Homo sapiens: one gene and its partner. The protein of the gene in region 1 interacts with the protein of each later gene in a biochemical or structural test. Each region holds a gene or a part of one and is shown on either strand. Other genes may lie near its edges.

Evidence for each region.
Region 2: the proteins of PPID (region 1) and ATP5PO form a complex in vitro, tested with the Homo sapiens proteins (one study listed by IntAct).

What each region holds. Positions count from the first base shown.
Region 1 is NC_000004.12:158,716,771-158,720,431, forward strand, and holds part of PPID (peptidyl-prolyl cis-trans isomerase D), read right to left. Parts: intron 2,517-3,661; coding exon 2,410-2,516; intron 431-2,409; coding exon 242-430; intron 1-241. UniProt on the Homo sapiens protein: PPIase that catalyzes the cis-trans isomerization of proline imidic peptide bonds in oligopeptides and may therefore assist protein folding. Proposed to act as a co-chaperone in HSP90 complexes such as in unligated steroid receptors heterocomplexes.
Region 2 is NC_000021.9:33,902,807-33,905,819, forward strand, and holds the end of ATP5PO (ATP synthase peripheral stalk subunit OSCP, mitochondrial precursor), read right to left. Parts: intron 1,216-3,013; coding exon 1,129-1,215; intron 834-1,128; coding exon 720-833; 3' UTR 647-719; downstream 1-646. UniProt on the Homo sapiens protein: Subunit OSCP, of the mitochondrial membrane ATP synthase complex (F(1)F(0) ATP synthase or Complex V) that produces ATP from ADP in the presence of a proton gradient across the membrane which is generated by electron transport complexes of the respiratory chain.

The sequences.
Region 1 (3,661 bases):
AACATGGTGAAACCCCGTCTCTATTAAAAATACAGAAAAAATTAGCCGGGTGTTGTAGCGCGCGCCTGTAATCCCTGCTACTCAGAAGGCTGAGGCAGGAGAATAGCTTGAACCTGGGAGACAGAGGCTGCAGTGAGCCGAGACCGCACCACTGCACTCCAGCCTGGAACAGATCGAGACTCCGTCTCAAAAAGATAGCAACTAAGATAATAAGTGTATTTCACTGTAACTTTTTACTTACTTTAGCAGGTTTTTCACCTTTCACTTCCACATTTTCCAATATCCTTGCCACTCCTATTCCTTTAATTACTTGGCCAAACACCACATGTTTCCCATCCAAATGAGGAGTTGGAACTGTTGTGATAAAAAACTGAGAACCGTTTGTGTTGCGGCCTGCATTTGCCATGCTCAGTAAACCCTCCCGATCATGCTGTAGAAATAAAAATTAAAAGAAAACCAAGGTTAGATGTGTTCTTTTCTGAATTGTGTGTTAGTCTGAACTGTTCTTTTACTGAACATAAAACTGGGGTGCACTATACTACCATTTAGATCAAACTACTTTTTTTTACTTTTCACTTATAAAATTTTTTAATTACTTTTTATTTTTTTATAAACTGCAACCTTTAATTCACAAAACATGGGGCACTTAATCACTTTAAACTTTAAAAAACCTTATCAAAGTAAATAGGTAACAGAAACAATAGTCGGGGGGAGGGTTATTTCTAAATTGGCCATGAGAAAATACTTACACTTCACCTTTAAAATGAAGATGCAGCATTATGAAACTCTTGTAATATATTTTGCCCTCTTTATGATGAATGCTCTTTTTTTCTGGGAAGACCTGAACGGTCTTCCAAATTCATAAATATGCCTACAGTATAAGTCTTCCTTTACAAAACATCAATAAACTGGAACAATAATGGGATACTGAATTTACCCAAGACATTCAGTTTGGTACTTTCCTAATCTCAAAAGAATCCAAATCATACAGGATTTGGATTAGGTTTTCATCCCAGATGAATCACCTCTTCGGAGAGTGCTCAAAAGAAACTGCTGCATACATCTTGAAATCAAAATTCTACCTTGGCATAATCCTGTCAAAGGATCTATGAAACCCAATTTCTTAACCTTTTCACTTTATCTCCTAGGCTTTCTAAATGTATTCCTTGTTGGTGCATGCACCGTAACTCTCATGTTATATAATGTTTCATGACACCCCCCACCCCACCAAAATGCCTTTTACTCCCCTCAGTCTAAATCAAATTCAGATTTTAAGGCCACCACGTTTATAGAAAGCAAGAATCATGTGTCTTGTCTATAGGCCCCTTTTCTCTATGTCAATGTGATCATCACATCACCTTTAGTTTTCATCCTTCTGGTAGCTTCCTTTGGTACAACAGTAACTAGAACTTTATTTCCTCAACGTCTCTTGCCTTTGTCTTTCCTCACCGACGTCCCTTTTTAAATTCTGCATCAATACTACAGTTCCTGCCTAACCAAATCTCAGACATGTTGCCGCCTTGCAAGACCCAGTCTGCACAGCCCAAGTAGCCATTCCTCCTCAATGACTTCCATAATAATTCAGACTGCATAAATCACATCTTTCTCCTGCAGTATATAGACAGTATTAGCAATGTTATACAAGCAAGGATATTCAATCAATTTAGCATTTATTTATATACTATTATTCTCCAGTAGTCCCATGTATCTTAATCTTGTCTCTGAGGTAGGATTATAAATTCCTTGTCATCAAGGCCTTTCATTTTTATAAACCCTTTGGTGCCAGTGATAGTGGCTCAATAAACACTGACTGGAAGACTGACGACATTTTTTCAAATTATCCTAATACCCTTGCTCATATTCCTTATTTCCAAAAATATCACTTTACTTTTGTACTTACATGTCCATTCTTATAACTTGAATGATGCAATATACCCCAATTACATCTTGGGACAACGAAGACAAGAAGGCACAGGCACCACTGAAGTCCTTTAGGAGCTTGGACATTTAACTATATCTGCTAGTGTGCAAATCCCCTGACATCCTGGATATTAGTGATGGTTTTGTTGCTCTTCAAATTCAAGGATAAGGATGCACAAGTTACCATCCTTCCAACAATGGAAACATTTTTCCTGGAAACAATTTTGCCAGATGCTGGTCGCATTTAAAAACTCACTGGCTTAACTGAAGCATATAAAAACTGGATCACAATGAAATAATGCTGAATTAATCATTACTGAATGAAAACTTTTCCATATTAAAGAACCATTATTTACAAAAGTGATTCCTATTACAAGAAATGGAGAATCTAAGCACACTTGAAACATTTTTTGGTGTCTTAATCCAACAAGTATTCCAGATATATAACAATCTTTTTATCAGCAATAACATGCATTTTCTCTACTTTACCTTGTAATGGAAATTTTCATCTTCAAATTTTTCACCATAAATACTTTCTCCACCTGTCCCATTCTGATTTGAGAAGTCTCCACCCTGAATCATAAATTTCTTAATAACTACAAAAAAGGAAAATGGCTATTAGTGACTGAGACATGGATGCCTTTAGCAATGCTTACTAATGGATACGTACGTAAGACAACTTTGTAGTGCATGACTCTAGTCATGTCTCTCTCCTGTTTGTCGCTCCCCACCCGTCTCCGCAACTCCAAACGCTTCAGGCTTTTCACCATCTGAATCCAACCTATTTTCACTGCCTGATCCCTGCTAACATTCAGAAAATCGGTTCAAATGATACCTCCCCTATAAAACTGTCACTGAAATCCCTAAGCTGTATGTCCTAATTTTTCTCCCATAGTATCTTGACTCTGCCTACATAACATATGGCATTATGATCTGCCCCTTCCAGCAATGATCTCCTTAAGTACACCAACTGTATTGTTTTACATCCTTATAACTATGTGCATGTACACATAGTACATATTAGTTACTCAATAATGTCTGCTGAATACAGACCAATGATTCCCAGTAGATTTGTTCTACCCTAATGGAAAATTTTCAGCAAATATATCACTTTGTGTCAAAGGTTACCAAGATTGCTTTCATGTTCAGAGAACCCTAGAGCTCACACAAATCAGTATGTGGTTGGATCACAGTGGTAAGGATACACAGCGAGATGACGGGAAAGACACAGGCAGAGTCTGGAAAAATCCATGTGCAGGCTTCCTTATGCTTTCTCCGTCCCATGAAGTGCTACAGAACACACACTTCCCCCAGCAACAAAAATGCAGCAACATGTACACAGTATTTCTGCCCAGGAGAGCCAATTAGAGACTCAGCACCCAAGGTATTTATTGGGCACACTCTACCTAGCATGTACCAAAATTCCAGACTCCCCAAAAGAGAGCACACATTCATGTTTGTACAAATAGGCTAGGCATAGTAAATCACCATTACTATTTAGGAAATGGTACAAGTGTCAAGTTCCCAGACTCCAAACAAGTGCTACTCTTGCAGGCAGACCTTTCTAAAGATAGCAGTCTCACACTTGCTATGTTAAATATTTTCTGCATATAGTTTATTAGCATATTTCAAGTTTTTATTAAACATGAAAGTAAACATTTTAAATATTTTTTAAAAAGTTAATTTTTTCTTAATAAATCGTTTAAAAAATGTTGCTCTTGTGATTATTGCTTATTTGCCT
Region 2 (3,013 bases), on another chromosome or scaffold:
GAACTGGTTTTGGTTAAAAGGTGAATTGGGAGCATCTTAGGGACAAAGCGGGAAGGGGCAGGGGACCTACCTAAGGTAACTTTTGCCCGTTTGCTCCAGCAACGTGTCGGCGCATGGTGTTAGTTATACAGTGGTAAAAACATGGGCTGTAGGGCCTGACACCAGCTGTCCAGACAGGTGACTCTGAGCACATCTCTAGGGCCCCTCAATCTCTTTCCTCATTTGTAAAGTGGGGTGATGTCTCTCCCACCCGTGTGACAAGGCTGTCATGCAGCTTCAGATGTACATGAAATGGCCTTGAAAGCTACAGAGCAGCCTACAACTAGGTGTGTTCATGTTAGGATCAAGGGCAAGAGGCCTCCCTGGAGGGCTATGGATCAAACACAGATCCGATGATCTAGTAGGGACCAGGAACTCTGAACAAACCCTTAAAGACACGGGATTTTGGCAGGCAGGACCAGATAGACTTTGCTGAGTGACCATGTGTTAGGTGCTGTGTCTAACCAATTAATTCCTAAACATAATCTACTCAAACCAAATTCTCTAGGCCAAAAGGGCTTTTTGGCCTTTATACTCAGGGGATACCAAAAAAGGACATAAAAATAAAGCCTTCTACATTCCAGTTTAAAAGACAGTGAACATAATATGATCTGTTCTGGAAGCTTTTTATTGTTGCTCCAAGTTTAAGAATTTTCACTGATGGCAGAAAACCAACACTTTTAGACAATCTCCCGCATAGCCCTGCCCAGCTTCTGAATCTTGGTCTTGACAGACATGTCAACATATTTCTCGCCAATGCGCACAATCATTCCACCCAAGATTGACGGATCAGTCTACAAAAGAAGTAAGACTGGAAATGTGAAAACGCGCTAATCAAATGGGACACACAAAAAAGTGTTTTGAAAGGCTAAATGTGTTGCACAAATGTAAGAGGTTATAATTACACCTAGAAAAAGGCAAAAGTAAAACTGCACAGTCAGATAATCATTTAAATTTAAAATAAATACAAAATTTTAACTACAGAAAAATTAGTATAGAGTTAGATCTAATATTTCACTAGTACTTTCTGTAGCCATTTTAAGCTTAAAATAACCCGAGAAAACGTACCATAAATAATTTAAAACCTACCTTAGCCTCCAATTTCAATACTTGGCCTTGACTTAGGAAGCTCTTGAGGACAGTTTTTAATTCAGAGAGTGTGGCTTCTTCTAAAGGCTGAAAGGCAAAACCATCCTTTCAATTTAGATAAAGCAAAACAGAAACTTCCAGAGTTAAAATACCCCAGGCCCACATCACCAAGACAGGCCTTGTGAGCTCCTCCCTTTGCTACCTGGGCCCATCATGGAGCTGCTCTGCAGCATTCACTCCTTGTTCACGCTGGAGGTTCAGGGAGCACAGGAAGGCCCTGCCTCACAGCATCACCCGGGCAGCTCCCACTCAGCCGTTCAAGGACGGCCTGTAAATGCCACTCCCTCCCTGCCTCTGCTCTGTGTGCTAGCAGTACAACTTGGAACTAACAAGGAAAGGCCTTCAAGTTTCTAATGCCTGAAGATGCAGCCCCATCAATGCAGGAGGACACAGGCCTCTCCTGGGTGCAGCCCTGGGGACACGACATGCATCTATCATGTCCTTGGCTGAAAAGTTGCCATTTTAACCTGGTTTTACATCTTCATGTTTGCCTAGCTCTGCTGGCTGTTCATCTCCCCGCATCCACAGCTACCTGGAGCTCTGGCAGGCCACTCCACTCTCTGAACCCCAGTGAGAGAACCTGGAGCAGTTGGCTTTTCCTGAAGTCAGCTCAGCTCCATAACCTACTTTAGAGCAAGCACCTCAAATGTCCAGACTGCACTCTCCTCTCGGCCCCAACTCTTACTCCTGGTTAGTTATGTTATAGTGTTAAGTGTTCTAATGGTGAAAATGAAGAAGGCTGTTAAACCAAAGGCCTTTTTTTTGAGACCGAGTCTCGCTCTGTCACCCAGGCTGGAGTAGAGTGGCGAGATCTCGGCTTACTGTAGCCTCCGCCTCCCAGGTTCAAGTGATTCTCCTGCCTCAGCTTCCCAAGTAGCTGGAATTACAGGCGCATGCCATCACACCCGGCTAATTTTTGTATTTTTAGTAGAGACGGGGTTTCACCATGCTGGTCAGACTGGTCTCGAACTCCTGGCCTTGAGTGATCCACCCGCTGCAGTCTCCCAAAATGCTGGGGTTACAAGTGTGAGCCACCACACCCTGCTAAAAAGGCCTTTTTTTAACTTGTCATAAATCCTACCTCCCTGGCCCCTCCTCTAAGAGCCTAAAAAAATTTGGCAGAAAAATTTATGTCTTTGTAAAGATATAACAATATCCTTTTTTTGGGGGTGGGGGGTGCTGGTGGTGGCCAGAATCTATTCGTGTTCAAAACATGATTTACTGAGACTAAAAGGTTACAGAATTCTGAAATATACATACCCTCCACTGAGACATGTACCAACTGCCAGGTACCTGTCTATGCCAGGCACATTTCATGCCTACTATCTCCCTTCATGTGGGCAACCCTGAAAGGCCACCGGTCATTATGCCCATTTTACATATGAGGGAACGGAGGCTCAGGGTGGGTAAGAAACTCACCTAAGGCCACATCAGCAGGTGAGGACCAGCCCCAATATTTGAAACCAGTCTGTGTATTTCTAAAGCCTGTGCTCTTAGTCACTCATCAAGACATAACGTTTTTCAAACAGTACAGACTCACGCACCCAACAGTATCAACATCAAAAGCATTAGTAACAGTTGGTTCTAAAATCTTTTGCAAAAACAAGCATCCTTTAAAAGAAAATCATGGCCTTGTGGCTGTGCACGGTGGCTCACACCTGTGGTCCCAGCACATTGGGAGGCCAAGGTGGGTGGATTGGCTGAAGTCAGGAGTTCGAGACCAGCCTGGCCAACATGGTGAAACTCCATCTCTACTAAAAATACACTAAATTAGCCGGGTGTGGTGGCAGGTGCTGTAGTCCAGCTACTTGGGAGGCTGAGGCAG